Regions from separate parts of the Homo sapiens genome. Here region 1 is linked to region 2. A link means that fine-mapping ties the variant in region 2 to the expression of a gene that starts in the linked region. Tissue or cell type: blood mononuclear cells. Region 2 holds a variant in brackets; the other region holds the start of a gene. All regions are shown on one strand. Distances are from middle to middle. Region 1 holds the start of NCK2 (NCK adaptor protein 2). Region 2 overlaps NCK2 (NCK adaptor protein 2).

Region 1 (8,327 bases), 41 kb after region 2:
GCAGTGAGCTGTGATCATGCTACTGTACTCCAGCCTGGGTGACAGGGTGAAACCCTGCCTTAAAAAAAGAAAAAAAACAACTGCAGGAAAGAATGTCACAGATGACAAATCAGGGACACAAAGAAAGTGCTGTGGAAGTTTAAAGATGATGCCATCCCCTCTAGTTTGGAGTTGATAAGATGTGGGGAAGAAAAGAAGTAAGAGACGACCCTTGGGATGAGTAAGAACTCAGGACACGGAGGAGACTGAGCCAAGGAGTTGAGAGGGAACACAGAGGCTGGTCAGGGACAGTGACACCGTATGACATCACTGTGACACTGCTACCTCAATCAAAATAACTTTCATTTCCACAGTTTCAAGGACTAAGATTCTTGAGGTAGGAATGTATGTGCCAGTACACATGTGGATGTGTGTCACTGGGCAGAGGTAATACTTGCTAACGTTCATTTACCTTTAGAAATAAACATACTTTGGGAAATGTTCAAAGGAAAATGCAGGAAAAGAAAAGAGTCTAATTTTTTAATTGTGCTACTAAATGGCCTAAAGAAATGCAAAACTGTTTTTGCTTTAGCTGCACACTTTTGATAGCCCGTTAAAAGGCCGTCACGACCTTCTTCTGAGTTGCCTTAACTCAGGCATGGAACAAGATACACGAAATCACATTTTAGCTTAGGCCCTTTGAAAACGTGCCGTGAAGTATTTCCATCACTCATTTTAGGAAACAGAAACCATTTGGAAGTGCCACTCGCAAACCCTCTGGATGGGAAAACTAATTTCCTAAGCATCTGAAGTGAGCTGTAGGGAGTTTCCAGTTCATTTGTGAAAAAAGTTAGCTTACTTGTTTTTCCAAACATCACTCATCATCCTCCCCTGTAGTTCCAGCAAGCAATTCTGAGCTCTTCAGTCTTTAAGCCTCATTTTTAATGTCAGAGAATGATTTCCGCAAGCCCTGTCTCCCCCAGTGCACACGGCAAGCCAGTTTGAGCAGTTAGAAAAATGGGTGTCCCATAGAGCCTCGCAGCCTGGTCTATCCAGGGCAAACTAAGCTAGTGCAACTGATCAAGTAAAGGACTCCAGTGCATTCTGCGCCATTCCGGGAGTCTTAGGGTATTTTAAAAGGTTATCCAGTCTGTGCACATGCAAGGAAGATTTCCGGTGTATTTAATATGGATGGTAGTGCATTTCTCAAATATAGTACTGTGTACATAAGATCTGCTGTTTGTTGGAAAAGCTAAATAACCGAAAATGTAAATGACAAAGCCTGGGAATATGGCAGGGTCAAACAGAGCAAGGATGAAGAAGATTTAAGTATGCAGCGTGTCCTAAGCAAAACACAAAGCATGAAAACTGAGCACAGCCACCTGCAAGGCACCTTCAGCAAGCCCGACGGTTAACAGGGTCAGTTTCTCCACAAGTGGACAGAGGGGGTTATGCAGCAGCCAACTCTTCCTGATGGCAATTTGTGACCCAATTTCATCCAGTGTTTCATGACCAACCCCCCTGAATGTTTATGAAGCAGGAAAGAAGCTCAGAATCCAGGCGAGGCCTCCGGGACAGGAAGTGGGCCAGGCACCTCCACAGCTTCCTATGCCTAAAGTTCTCCATTTCAGCCTCAAGTAGCCGCCAGAAGACCACTAAGATTCCGCCACCTTCTCCAATCAAAACTACATCTAACCAACCTCCAGGGCAGAATATACTGAGGTAGGATTTTCCCTCGTGTTCACTTCTTCACAAGCAGGTTAACACTTGCTTCTCAGGAAACCCCTGTTCCAAACGTCAAAAAACCTCCATGTCTAGCCCAATCTCCAGGTGAAGTCAATTTCTTCTCCACGTGTCCGATGACTGCCATTCTCTTTACGTAAAACTCGCAAGGCTTGAATCCTGTTACTAATTCACCTGCTTATCTATGAAGCTTGCAAAGTGAATTGAGGGAGTGTTCACACGCACAGTTCCGTTTTGGTAAGTTAAAGCGGCCCAGGTTAATTTCATTTTCAGTCACTTTTGAGACTTGATAACTACATCTAAAACAGAGGCATGAAAAACACCCTGAATCACTTTCATTCCTACACAAAATCCCTTCCGAGAAGCGGGGACTGCGCCTGGGCCAGGAAGGGACTCCCCTACCTGTAGGTCCCAGCAAGCCACGCCCACCGGCCTCTCAGGGTTGTTTCTTTCTGGGTCGAGGGACGGAGCTGGCCCTTGCGATATTTTAGGCCCCCTCCTGCCCACACTGGGGCCTGCTCATCCCATTATGCAGATGCAAACTTGGCAGAAGCAGCCTTAAACCTGTTGGCAAAATAAACAAAGCCAAATAAAGAGGAATCTGCCAACCTGAATTGTGTGAAGTGGCCAAGGCCGACTCCACGCACGCTCGGCTTTGTCCCTGAAGCTGTTACAATACTAGTTTAAGTCAGGTGCCTGGGGTCCACCAGCCAATGACCCCTAGCATCCACCGCAGACCTTCACAGAGATCCCCATTGTCTACAAATTAAAGCGTTTTGCAAATTAAACCCCTCCACACAATGCCAAGCTAACTGTGCTCATAAGGCAGTTACCCTCCATGCCTTAAAACTCACATATCAAATTTTTCCAAAAGCACTCGGTGATTAAATCGCCCTGAAAAAAACCGAGAGAGCCGAGCGATTGTGAGAAACTTTGGTTCATTCAGGTGGCTGTTAGAGTCCTGTAAATCTGGGGCAGGGCGCAGAGCCTGAAGCCGGGCACAAAAGCTCCCTTCGCCGAAGCGAGGACCTCCTTTATGCAATGTGACAGCAGCTTTGTGCGCGAACATAAATAGTTGTAATAAACACGGTTAAGTTCTCCCGGCCGATCGCGGCCTCCCCCGTCCCTGCGCCGGGGCCCTGCGATCCGCGGCTATTCTTCCCCGGCACACGCGCCCTGGCGACCCTGGCCACCGCACGGTCCCACGCTAGCCCCGAGCTCCGTGCCGGCCGCCCGCCTGCAGGCCAGGCGCAGCCTGCGCACCCGGGGGTCTCCAGTCCCCGGGCCCCGCAGCCGGGCCCCCTGCCCTGATCCTCGCCCGCGCCCTTGGCTGGCGTCCCCGCCCCTGGGCCGGCCCCCGATGGTGGGGGTTAGGGATGGGAAGGCGGGCAGGAAGGTGCAGAGCCGGGAGGTGCCCGGCAGTCCGCGGTCGGGGGCGCCCAGGCCGCGGCAGGGCCGAGAGCACCGGAGGGGCGCGGAGGGGACCCGCTCTCCTGGCCCCTTCCCGGGCGCACCCCGGCCCGCGAGCCCCGCCGCGCTCCCAACTCCGCCCAACGGCCCCAAGTTTGTGGCCCCCGCCCCACGCCCGCCTAGCCGCGCTTACCTCGCCGTGGGCCGCCCGCGGAGCCGGAGGGCAGCGGCGCGGGTCCCGGGGCGGTGGCCGCGCTGCGCCCGCCCAGGCGCCGCTCTTTGTCTGCGCCGCTCCCTCCTCCCGCCGCCGGGCGGACGCTGCCGGCCCGGGCGGACCCTGCCGGCCCGGGCGCCGCGAGCCTCCCGGCCGCCAAGCCCTCCCCTCCGCCCGCCGCCCGCTCGGCCGCGCGGCTCCGGCCTGACGATCCCCGCGGCAGCGGCGGCGGCGGCGGCGGCGGCGGCGGCGACCCTCCCCCGGCGCGCAGCGCCCGCCTCCTCCGCGCTCTTCCTCCTCCTCCCGCGCTCCTCCCCGGCCGCGCCGTGACGCCGCCCAGGGGCCGGCCCAGGCCCGGGCGCGCGGGGCGGGGACCCGAGACCCACCTGGGGCGCCCCCCGTCGTCGCCAGGCTCCGCGCCCGGGTCCCGGTACGGGCGCCGGGATAGCGCGGGGCTGCGGGACGCTCCGCTCTGGAGGCGCAGCACGGGCCGGGCGCCGGGGGCAGGAAAGGGTCCCCACGCCCGAAATTGCGTGCGGGCGGTGGGGGGCAGGGTAGGTGGGTGGGGAGGAGAGTGAAAACACAGACGGCAACTTCCAGCCTGGGATGACTGCCGGGTGGGCTTTGCGTCCTCTTTTTTGTTTGTTCGTTGTTCTTATCACGAAGCTCTAGTTGCTGGGCAGCCGCCCCCCTCCCGGAAGCATTCCCACGGCACTCAGCTAAGCAGGCCTGTTGTCCATCAGAAAAGTGACTTAAATAAAAATGTCACTTCCTCCCTGTAATTGCTTGTGGGCATTTTTATTTATTTGCTTTGCATCTATTTACTTTCCCAACCAGACACATTTTTAGTCCATCATCCCTGTCCGAGGCACTTCCTAAAAGAAGAAGAAACTCGACCTCTGTTGCCTCCCAGGCATCCAGGCCAGCCCCAGCCTGTGGAATCCTGGTTGCACACCCGTGGGGGCAGAACCCGAAGAGGAGCTGCCCGAATGTGCCCCTAGAAGGAGTGTCGCTAATGATGGGACCGTTCAGCTCACCCAGCCTCGAGTTGTGGCTAGCCTATAAACAAACTTGGAAGATGAAAACCCAAGAGCAAGGGGAAAGACACAAGTTTCCCTTTCACAGACACATGCATCCGGATGTCTTTTCTCCTCCCCATATGGTTTCCCAAAGGAAATCCTAATATTCAAATGATTCTGATTTCCTGGCAGGATAGCCTGCATCCATGTTAATGAGATTCTTTCTTAGGCTCCTGGTCTCTGCTTACTATTAAGGCAATAATAATTTACCCAAGGTTACAAGGCTGTATTATTTGATTCACTCATCTCCTGCTTCCTTCCAGAAGGGAAGTACCCAAGGATAGGTAACTAGAGTCAGCGTAGCTTTGAAGTCAGACAGGTGAGTGTTTGACTGTTGACTTCCTGAACTGTGTAACGTTGCACAGGTGGTCCTCAGCCTTTCTAAAATCTGTCATATGGGGAGATAATATTTACTTACCTCCTATGTGAAGTACCCTGGCAGTAGGTAGCCCTCAATAGCTCAGTAAGTGGAAGGAAGCACAGTACACTGAGCAGGAATCAGGTACAAGCTCAGGGAATCAGAACAGCCTCATTTTTCCTTGTTTTGACCTTGTGAAAGAAGCTACTTCAGTTCATCCTTTTGTGCAAGTTTTGTGTTACTAATATCTAGCTTTACAATAAGAAAAGAAGAATTCTAGTCATCAGTCTGCCCAATTTTAGATTAATTTACTCAAAATAAGTATAGCAATATTGACCCAGTTTGTAGCTTGTTTGCTTTGTAAACTTTCACTGAATCGTGGTTCTTGCATGCCTCTTCTTTCTCTGATTCTTTAGAAGTCACCGATGTCATTCTCTATCTAAATCCAGTGGCCCTTTATCAATCTTTATCCTGTGGAGTTTTCTGAAATATGTGGCATTTCTGCTATTTCCTGAAACACCATCATCTTTTCATTCATCAAACACAGCCAGTTCTGATTCTCTTACCTTTCTGACCTGCCCATCTGCCTCCTCTAGAGAGGTTGTTGTCTTCCCACCCTGTAAAAGTGATATCCCCAAGGCAGATGGTGGCCCTTTGTTTTTATTCTGATACGCACCTTTTTTTTTTAAAGAGAGAGTTGATTGTTTTTTGTACACTCCCTGTCTAAACCTTCATTGATTAACCCCCAGACCTGTAGCCTTAGAGAGCTCCCCTGCTAATCTGCAGAGCTCCCCAGCTAATCTGCACCCCCTAAACATGGCGCAGCATCTCTTCTAGGTCACCATGTTCAAAATGAAACTCATCTGCTCCCCAGACCAGCTCCTCCTCCCATGGTTTCAGGCCTGGCCAAGAGTCTACCAGGCACCTCAGCTCCTGGGAGAAATCTCATTGTTATCTTGGCTTTTCCTTCCCTCTCTCCGAGTTCTCCCCAAGAAAAGCTGGGAGAGCGCTGAATGACACCAAGACCCCTTGCAGACTACCCCCATGGTTCTGAGTCCTGGTGATTCTTAAACATCTTTTCCACTGCACCTTTCTTTCCATTTCCATCACTGGCATCCTAACTTATACATCATTCTAGCAATAGTTATAATGTACCTTGATTGAATTCTTGACATATATCATCTCTAATCCACACACAATAGTATTATACCCATTTTACAGATGAAATCACTTGAACAGTGGATCAAAGAACTGGGGTCAGAGCATGTACCTGACTCCAAAACTCTTGTTCAATTCCCCACAACTACTGCCTTCCAACTGGTCTCCCATTACTTCCTTCTTAAATCCCTCAGACTCACACTGGACATCAATGTCATCCTAACCTTCCTGTAAATTGTTTCCATTTGTCCCTGGTTGTGCTCAAGAACTTCTCATGGCTCCCCATTGCCCACCACAGTCTCCTCAAAAGTTATCTGATGACTGAAGACTGAGCATTTTCCCCCAGAGAGGCTGGGGTATTTAGCCCTTAGAGGCCTGTGTTCGTTTCCTGGGGCTGCCTTAACAAATGACCCCAAACTAGGTGACAAAACAGAGGTTATTTTCTCAAAGTTCTGGAGTTCAGAAGTCTGATATCAAGACACCAGCCTCTCTCCAAAGTCTGTAGAGAACAATCCTTCCCTGCCTCTTCCAGCTTCTGGTGGCTGCAGACATTCCTTGGCTTGTGGCAGTGTCACTCCCACCTCTGCCTCTCTGTCTTCACACAACCTGGTTCCCTGTGTCCTTTCCCTTCTCTCTTTTTGTAAAGACAAGTATCATTGAATTTAGGGCTCACTCTAATCCAGCATGATGTCATCTCGACATCCTTATCTTACAACATCTGCAAAGACCTTTTTTCCAAATAAGGTCGCGTTCTCGGCTTCCAGGTGAACATATCTTTTGGGGCCAACATCCAACCCACTGCAAGGCTTAACATGGGGGAGACATTTCTTTGAAGCTTATGTTTTATCTAAAAATATATAGGTTTTTCTGCATTCTACTCCATTAATGTGTCCACATCTGTTTTACTGTCTTCAATCACAAAGTATTGAAAGCATAAAAAACATGGAGTGGAAGGAGGTGCAGTAAACTTTTGCCTAAAATCACATCAGCATTACATCTTATGATCTCTCTTCCAAAGGCCTCTCCAACTTAGCCCTGCCATACAATCTCCTTTTTACCTCTGTCCAGTATAAGCTGTTTGCTTCAGTCACTCAGCTCTGCCCACAGTGCCACATTGAGTCACACTAGTTTCAGCCTTCTGTGGTGTGAAGGCAGCTAGGAATTCCCTGTCCCCGTCCTTCTCTTTCAGAGCTCCATTCAAGGCCTTCTCTAACCCCTCCTTAGACTCACGGAAAACACAAAGCAAGGTTGAGGGTGTTGTCCAAGTCATACGTCAGAGGCTCAAAGCCTACCTTGGAGCCTGTGCCTTGGGGTCATTTCACCTCTCTGAGCCTCAGATATTAATAGTGCTCTTGCAAAGCGTTGTGAGAATTAAAGGAGATAATATAAACATGTCTCAACTGTGTGTTCAGCACATGGTAAACACTCATGTCTCCTTTCTCATGACCTTCTCTTGTAACCCTCAATTCAATTAAGCATATCTGGTGTAGTTCTATTTGTAAGGCATTATAAGATCCACTTCAGGATTCATTCATTTGGTGCAGACACCAAAGAACACCTGGATGTGCAAAGAGCAGATATAAGATTGCATTATTCAGAGAGGTTATAACGCAAACTGGAGTGGAGTGAAAGGATGGGAAAATAGTTTAGGAGAAATGGAGAGGAAAGACCCAAAAGGAAGGATGAAACCAGCATACAAATAACTATAATATAAAACTAAATATGAACAGTACCAAAGAAAATATGTCTAGAGAATCAGGAGAAGCTTTAGGCTTTATGAAAGGTGGTGGCATTGGCAATGACCTTGAGAGATTACATGGTGGGAAGCTGCCTTTAATTTGGCTGCCCCCCTCTCTAGCCCCTTCCTGGTTTTAGAGAAGCCTGTCTGAACCCTGGAGGGAGGCAGAGTAGGCACCTTGGTCCCTCCATTCCCAGAAGCCCTGTGAGAGTGAACAGCCTGGGATTGGCCAATGGAACCCTCCCACTCAAGACTGTGAAACTGGAGAGGGTGAAAAGGACAAGAGAGGGTGAGATTCAATTTGCCATGGCTGAAATAGTCCCAGCACATCCCTCCCACAGGAATTAGCCAGCTCCATTCTCACCCCTTCTGCTCTCCAGTTCCCCTGTGAGCTACTTGATATTCTTCTAGTAAATTCTCCTATTCTGCTTAAGGTACCCAGAGGCACTTCCTCTTTTTGGAACCCAAACCCCTGAATAATGCAAATGGTAGGATTTTGAAAGGTGGAGATAGACAGGGAGAAAATTCCCAGCGGCAGGAGTTCAGAACTCTGAGGCAGACAGGGGGACGTGGGAGGACCCTGTAGGGACAGAGAATGGCCCACTTGCCTAAATGGAGCAGAGGCTGCACAGAGCGGATCGCGAGGCC
Region 2 (8,327 bases):
GGGCATCGGGAGGAGGGGGAGATTGGCAGAGAAGCGTGCATTAAATCGTTCACAGTCATACCATGTTTTAAATAACAATTGTCTATATCAGTTTAGAATTCTAAAAAGTTGAATGCAACCAGAATACATTTTTAGAAACCCAAACGAGCAGATAAGAGATCCGCTGCCCTGACTAGTCACCCTCTGTCAAAACACAACAGAATTAACACAGATAGCTTTTGTTTAAAGTACAGAGTATTGGATTACAGTGGCTTGTTTGTAACTGATTTAAGCTATATAAGAATGAAGAAAACGAATGAAGGAGAACAAACAAAAAAAATTATGCATTCTATGGATAAAGCATATTGAAAGAAAACAAAAAAATAGAAAACTCTAGGAGAAGGCACTTAGAGATGAGGAAGTTCTGCACTGGCCAACAGAAGTGTCTTATTTAACCTACATATAAGTAATATACAGTATAATAATTGTATTAATATAGTACAACTATAGATATGTTAAATATCAAAAATATATATTGCTTGTATTACTTGTTCAAGAGGAGATGGAGATAACAGTAGTTTCAGAATCCCTATTAATGAGAAAAGTTCATTTGGATAGAGTATGACTATAAATATACAAACCAGAGGAAAAAGGAAACCTAAGCATGGAAAAAAGACTGAAACATCATCATCTAAATGGCGTTGATAGAAATGGAGAAAAGAATTTCCCTCTCCTTTTAACCTACTTTTAAGCAATGGCTTTAACTCCATGAAAATGCATTTTATGGGTGTAGAAGTTTCAAGGGCACAAAAATCCTTTAAGCAAAAGACAGCACTAGTACCTAGGTTTTCTAACTTTTGTCTCCAATTCACATAGCTGATGAAAAAACTTATCTAGAATTGGCCTCCTTCCTCCCCAACTCTCACTTCTAATCCCCTACACTTTACGGAAGTGAAAGGAAAGTCAAATTGAGAAGCTTTTTCAAAGCTAGCACCCTCACTTTTGCATCCAAAATGGATCCAAGCAGATCCAACCTTGGAAGGAGACACATCCCAACTCTGATTTGTCCTTGGCTGGTGGCACGTGGAGCCCAGGAGGGCAGGAAGCCCAGGTCTACTCACTTCTGCCAATGGGCCAGGGATCTACAAGTCGGGGGCGGTGGGGGGCGGTATACGCATGTGTTTCTAACAGAATGAGATCATCTTATAACATGGATGTAGCCCAAAATTAAAGCAAAACAAGTTATGGCCGTAATTTTCCCATCTACCCATTCCCTCACTGTCATCAAGAAAAGATGGGCCTTGTTTCCAGCAAGAAGGAACCTGGCTAGTGGAGATGCTCCTATGGGGAAGGTGCAGTGGTCACCAGTGCACCCTGACACCCCATGGGGTGGAGTCTCCACCGCAGGGAGAGACTGAGGTAGCTTCACTGCCTGAGTCAGCTCAGGCAGCCCTAACAAAAGACCACAGGCTGGGGGCTTCAACAGCAGGTATTCATTTCTCGCAGCTCTGGAGGCTGCAAGTCCAGGATCCAAGTGCCAGCAGAGTCTGATGGGGGCCACTTTCTGGCTTGCCGATGGCTGCCTTCTCGCTATGTCCTCAGGTGGCAGAGAGAGCTCTCTGCTGTCTCTTTTCAGAAGGGCAGGAATCCCATTATGGGGGCCCTACTCTCAACCCTATTTCCTCAGAGGGCTCATCTCCAAATATAGTCACACTGGGGGTTAGAACTTCACCACCTGAATTTCTGGGGGACATAAAATTTCAGTCCATTGCACTTGCAGGTGGAAGACTCAGCCCAAGCCTACAGATATGACCATGTCAGAGCTGAGACTGGGTCCTGCCCCTTCCACGGCGCTGAGCTGAGCTTCCTTCAGTGTGAGGACAACCAACCCAGAAAAGAGAAATCCAGCTGAGTGCTCAGGGCTGAGGGTCAAAGGTGAGGGCAGTGGGAGTAACAGCAGCTGCCCAGTGCCACCACGCCTGCAGCGGGCAGAGCAAGACAGCAGAGGAGTCGCAGCAAAGGGCAGAAGAGAGGAAAGCAGGGCACATGCTCACCCCATTGAGAGCCACCAAGGCCAGGGAGCACCTGTGCGGCACCACGCCAGCTGAAGTTTCGCAGGTCCCCTGCTTCGAGTCTGGACGGTGCTGTTATCACCATGCTTTAGAAAGGAGGGTGCCTGAGCAGCAGAGGTAAGGGAGTCAGCCTAAGGCTAGGGTGGGAGCAGGGCTGGTAGAAGGCACTGGCCCAAGAGAGGCAGAGGGGAACAAACCCAGGAGGAAGCAATGCGTGGGGGAGGCAGAAGGGAGGAGAGAGTAGAAGCTGGACCTGAAGGAGGCAGAGAAATAAGAGACAGCGATGGAGACAGGAAGCCCTGCCCGGGGACCCAGGAGAGTCAGGCCAGGCCACAGCCACCACAGGGACACAGTGCTTATCAGGCCTCACCCTGAGCCAGCTATGTGGAGTTTAATTTCACTCTCATAACCGCGCGAGGCCGGCATTACCTCCTTTTCCTAAAGGTGTGGATGAGTCTGAGCTAAAGGAACCGACTCAGCATCTCATGCTTAGAGAGGAGCAGACACAAGATCCCAGCAGCGGCCAGGGCCACCTCCAAGGCTGGCAGCCAGGTCTCCAAAGGCAGAGACCTTTCCAGACAGGCCCAAGACAACACTCCCAGCCTTCCCGAACTCCCATCCTGTCCCCAGCCTGCCCACTGGCCGTTCCCAGGGCTAATGGAACAAGTCCGTGCTCAGAGCCAGGCCTGGCACATAGCACATGCTCAGCTAATGATCACTACGGTTATTACATAGATTCAAAATAATCATTTGTTATCAGAGTCATTTGTACACATAATTTTTTCATCCCTGGTGCTGGGATTGTTTGTAATTTATTGTTCAGTCCACAACGCTAATCATGCTGCCCTAGACACAACAGATGATCAATAAAAGGCTGGCTGGATGAATGGATTAATTAACTGATAGAGAGATGTGCAGTGGAAGGGACGTGAGAATAAGGCAAATAAGGCAGAAGGTAAATGAGAAAATTGACAGATGGGCAAAGAGTGGACACACACACGTTTACGAAAACACAAAAAACAGGCAAAAGGTATTAAGTCCAGGGAACCAGTCGCCCAAGTTAAATAATTTGGGCCTCCCTGGACCATCATCTAGACCAAAAGTATTGCACTGCTACTAGATATCGTATTTATTTTCTTCAGCACATCAAATGAGAACAGCTAAATAAATAGACTCAGCACTTACTAGGAGTCCTGCGCCCAACCTCCTGCTGACCCTCAGAATGACATTTTGGGTGTGATCAGGTTCTCCCAAGCTTCGGCTTATAAAGCACAAAGGCAAACTTAACCTCGGCAGGGCTGCCCCAGACTCCCTGGCTGGGCATACCTGCAAACACCTGAGCGGATGTTGAGGTGGCTCAGAGCCAATCCTGTGGCTTCCACTCTATTGGTGCTATTGGAGATTGGGCCTTTCCCTTTACTGTTCACAGCGGGAAACCTGTCAGTGGGACCAGGTTACAAGGAGGACTGGGCAGGCTGCATTAGATTTTGTATTGGCGGTCTTTTGGTCGTGTCACTTTGGACTCTATCTTTCTGAATAGCAGGAATTACACTCACATGTCTCCCTGTAGGACAACACAACAATTTTTTCCTGTGTCCACAGACATCTCAGGAAGCTTCCCACTAGCCTCCTTGGCCAGGACGGGGGAACCGTCCTCTGGTTCTTTTTACACTTGGACACACACAGCATGGCCACCTCGGCTCCCAGTGACACCGTAAAGAACCAACTGCCGCTCACGCCTGTAATCCCAACACTTTGGGAGGCCGAGATGGGCGGATCATGAGGTCAGGAGATGGAGACCATCCTGGCTAACACAGTGAAATCC[T/C]GTCTCTACTAAAAATACAAAAAATTAGCCAGGTGTGGTGGCCGGCGCCTGTAGTCCCATGTGCTCAGGAGGCTGAGGCAGGAGAATGGCGTGAACCCAGGAGGTGGAGCTTGCAGTGAGCTGAGATCGCGCCACTGCACTCCAGCCTGGGCGACAGAGCGAGACTCCGTCTCAAAACAAACAAAAACAAAAACAAAACAAAAACGAAAAAACACACAAAAAAACACATAAAAAACAACTACCTGCTTCAGAAAGCATTTCAAACTGGGAGGCTGCCTAAGTGCATGCACGTGTTCCTAACTTTACTCGTGTATCCTATTCTGTCAGTATCTGAGGACACACTCTTTGTGCATATTCTAAGAATGTTGAAATGGGAAGTGTGGGAAACACGGGCCTGGAACAGTGGCTGCTGAGGAACGGATGGACCTCAACAGACACACTGCTCCTCCAGGGGCAAGTTTGATGGTGTTATAGTTTTCACTAGACTAAATGAGAATCTTTTATGGCAAGCATTTGTAACTGCCTGCCTAACCACAGACATGCTCAATTTAAATGTGATTATTATAGAAATGATAAAAATGCATTTATGCTCACCTACATTGTAAAGACCTGAATACATCTCTACATTGTACCCTCCACAAGCGAGGCTCCACATAGTGGAAACACAAATGTATCTTGAATTTAACATGCCCCTTCACCTCAATATAACCAGCATCAATACTTACTAGCCTGAAAGGCTGTTTTAAACAGCTTGACATGTAAGCAAATTAAACTCTCCCCTCCCGATTCACCCCAAGCCCATATGACCACCACAAGGAGTCCGATCAGCAGGTGGGAAAACTGCTCCCCAGAAATGCCACTGGGGTGAGAAAAGGGATGGCAACTTCCTATTAGAAATAACAGCCGGGCGTGGTGTCTCATGCCTGTAGTCCCAGCATTTTGGGAGGCTGAGGCGGGCGGATTACTTGAGCCCAAGAGGTAGAGGCTGCAGTGAACAGAGATGACGCCACTGCACGCCAGCCTGGGTGACAGAGGGAGAGCCTCTCTCAAAAAAGAAAAGCTCCCAGTGACGCTTTCCTGAATGAAAATGAATTTCATCACTGCCAATGCCACGCATGGTGTTGAGGCCAACCAGGTGCCACAGAAGGGACCTGCCGTCCAGCTGAAGCAGGTCCTGCTGCTTACTCAGTGACCTGCAAAGGCAATGGCACTCTGTCTTCTGCAGAGAAAGGGTGTTTCATTTTCTCGTGCAAATTCCAAATATATCCACATTTCAGATTGCTACAAGGCAGTACTATAAAGGGAGAAGCGAAACAACTCCCACTTTCTGGGAAGAAATGCCCTTGTTTCCAGCTGCAAAACCCTCTCTGTGGGGAAGCACACTGAAGTCGCTCAGGAACAGGCCACCCCTCTTGGAAAGAGTGGAGGTCATCATTTTTCACCTATTAGCGAAAAAAAAACATAATCTGAATACATTTATGTAGGGCTATTACCCAGAATATTTACAGGGTTTCTTCGTGCTAAGGTATTTCATGATGCTCAGAGGAACAAGGTGGAAAAAACACACCATTATTCTCCGCGAACGGCTGCCTTCCTAGTAACTGCACCCACGGTGGCAAATACTGCACATTAACCTGTGCCTTGGTGGTGTACGAAGCTTCCCACAAGCAGGTGAAGATGAAGAGCTAAGTCTGGCTCAGACAGGCAACGCTGCATCGAGCTGTTTTTACTCTAAATAAAAACCATGTTCCACGCGGGCCTTCACGGTGCTACCCCAGAACACGGGCACAATTTAATGCCTCACTCCGAGGAAGGAAGCTCAGGGAAGTCTCCTCTAGTGACTCTTAGAGGCTCCCCAAAGGAGGAGGGCGATGGGGGCCCACCCAAGCTCTAGCGAGGCTACAAACAGCACGCAGAACATTCCACTGCCATTACTTTCCATCTTCAAAAGATTACATATCATCTTAAAGAAAATTCAAGGTTAAATTGGCTTCCTCAGCTGCTGCGGCAGAAAGCAAAGCAGTGCTGCAGAGAAAGTTAAACCACCTCCCAGGGCTCTGGCCTTCTGCAACTCTTATTCTAAGGCAGCTTCCCCATCTATCTTGTTCCACGGTTATATCCCAGGTACCCAAAAAGGCTCTGGCCTTAAGGCTTACCTGTTGCAAATGATAGTCGACCAACTCAGCTGCAAATGGGGCTTGTTATGACACCGGAAATAAAGGTGAGGCTGCCACCCTCTTCGCCAAGCCGGTGAGCACAAGTGTCTGGAGTAACTGCCCCCTACGCCTCTCCAGTTGGGAGCGTTGGGGACAGTAAGTGAGTACTAGTCACTGGAAGCCAGCTCTGAGAGGCAGGTGCTGTGGCTGCCAGAGCTGAGCACAAGCCTAACAGCCTTTGCAACCTCCTCTTCTCCCCGACATCCACTTCGCCTCTACAGGCAGCTGCAGCCCATTTTGCCAAATGATTTCAACGGGCCGGATCCCCCACTCTCAGAAACGATCAGGTTCTATCATTTGACGTTGCATGAGGAGAGCTAAATTAGCCATGAAAACAAAACTGCTCTAACAAAATAAAAAGTACTAAAACCACATACTACCTATGCATGGAGTTCAAGAGTGAGAGGATGAAAACATAAGACACTTCACATAGCCAGCATTCCTCAAGTGAGATTTTGTGTAGAATTTAAAGTAACTTTAATACTTAAGAAAAGAGCGTTCATTATATAGACTGTTTCTTCTCAAGTCCTCAAATGGCCATCAACCCAACTCTGACACCTGCTGTGGAGAGAGTGGAACTAGTTTTAGGGAGATTTTTGGTGGCAGAGAGAGAAGGCAGATCACTAATCCCCATGGGCTGGTGGAAGCCATCAGCAGGATGTGCCTGATAATCCATCCATCTACACCAGAAGGAAGGGCCACCCTGAGTCCCTGGGCCCGGCCACCCCGCCTGCCTACAGCCAGACCAGGAGGGTTGTCCCCTTACTCCTATAAAGAGAGGGGAAAGAGATGATCGGTGATAGGCTCCCACTCTCGCGGAAGCCCAAAAGCAACTTCCCGCAGTCATAGTAAGAACAGAGTAAGGAAGGAATGGACCTCAAACCTGGGAAACCAGGTCTTTGTCTAGGAGCTCCTCCCTCAGCTTGAGGGACCTGATGGGCCGCAGGTTTTCAGGTAATTTGGACTCACTTGGACATTCTCAACTTCATAGTCAAGAAACTGACAGCTGTATGTACCTATTTCAGTTAAAAGCATTTACGGCAAGAAATAAAGAGGGAAGAATACATATGCACGTATACCAGTTCATTCAGCAAATGCCTAATGAGCATCACTACGTGGCCAGAGTCCTTATCACAGACTCATTCCAACTGGAGAAACAGACATGTCTACAAATTTTCGTACTGCGGAGAGGCGACAGCTCTGTCACAGACAACATAAATTGCAGGATTATCACTTGCCAAGCCACAGGCTCTGTACTTTTCATGCATTGCTCTTTATTATAAACCTAACAACTACCTTACAAGACTGCTATTTTCTCCATTTTTCAGATAATAAAACTGATGCACAAAGACCTCTGCCAGCCCAAAGTCACACTATGGCAATGGCAGGTCATGATTCATGCCAGCAAACCAGATCTTAACTGCTAGGCTGTACTGCCTTCCAGGAATGAGTGCAGAAATATTACGAAACAGACGTACATGGACTAGAAGGCCAAGGAGGGTCACTAGTTCTGGCTGGGGGAATCCTGAAGGCTTCAAAAGGGAGATTGCATTTAGTCAAGTCTTGCAGTGTGGGAAGGGATGAGTGGTGGAGGTGGAAGCGGAGATGGGAGAAGGCTGCCCCTGTGTCAGCAACAGGACCTGCAAAGGCACAGAGGTGTAAAAAGTGCACGGCTCCCTTGGGAATACCTAGAGTAATCATGTTCATAAAATTCACAAGGGCTGAATGGTAGAAGGTGGAGCAAAGATCAGATTTTAAAGGTGCTTTGACAACACAAAGGCACCTCTAGGAAATGGGAAGCTAATAGTTTATAAGAAGAGAAGTAAAACAATTAGATCTGTATCTTTGAAAGCCAACCCCGGAATAGGTGGGTGGGAGGGAGAAAAATCTGAAAGCAAGAAGACAGGAAGACCACGACCAGGTGAGAGACAAAATCTAGATTCGGGCAATGAGAAAAGAGAGGGTCACTTAGTCAAGGCTGGGTGACTGTGGTAGTCCATTTGGCTGGCTGTAACAAAATACCACAGAATGGTGGCTTATAAACAAAGGAAGTTATTTCCCACAGTTGTGGAAGCTGGAAGTCCAAGATCAAAGTACCAGGAAATTCAGTGTCTGGTAAGGGCCTCCTTCCTGGTTCCTACACGGCGGCTTCTTGCTGTGTCCTCACATGCTGAAGGGGTGAGGGGGCCCTCTGGGGTGTCTTCCGTAAGGAAATTAATCCCATTTGCAAGCGCT

Evidence for each region. PIP is the estimated chance that this variant, and not a neighbour inherited with it, causes the effect.
Region 1: it holds the start of NCK2, and the variant in region 2 is fine-mapped to the expression of NCK2 in blood mononuclear cells (TOPMed, PIP 0.96).

What each region holds. Positions count from the first base shown.
Region 1 is chr2:105,740,137-105,748,463 of GRCh38, reverse strand. It overlaps NCK2 (NCK adaptor protein 2), which reads right to left and starts at 3,552. Exons shown (of 5, transcript NM_003581.5): 1 at 3,326-3,552. RefSeq lists enhancers at 2,242-2,291, 2,392-2,461 and silencers at 2,832-3,221, 3,332-3,391, 3,582-3,901.
Region 2 is chr2:105,780,719-105,789,045 of GRCh38, reverse strand. The region is part of intron 1 of NCK2 (NCK adaptor protein 2); the gene reads right to left. Among named protein-coding and RNA genes, the nearest start is that of NCK2, 40 kb to the right of the region's middle. RefSeq lists enhancers at 2,157-2,206, 1,789-2,360, 5,646-6,146. The variant T/C (reference allele first, on the strand shown) is at 3,877.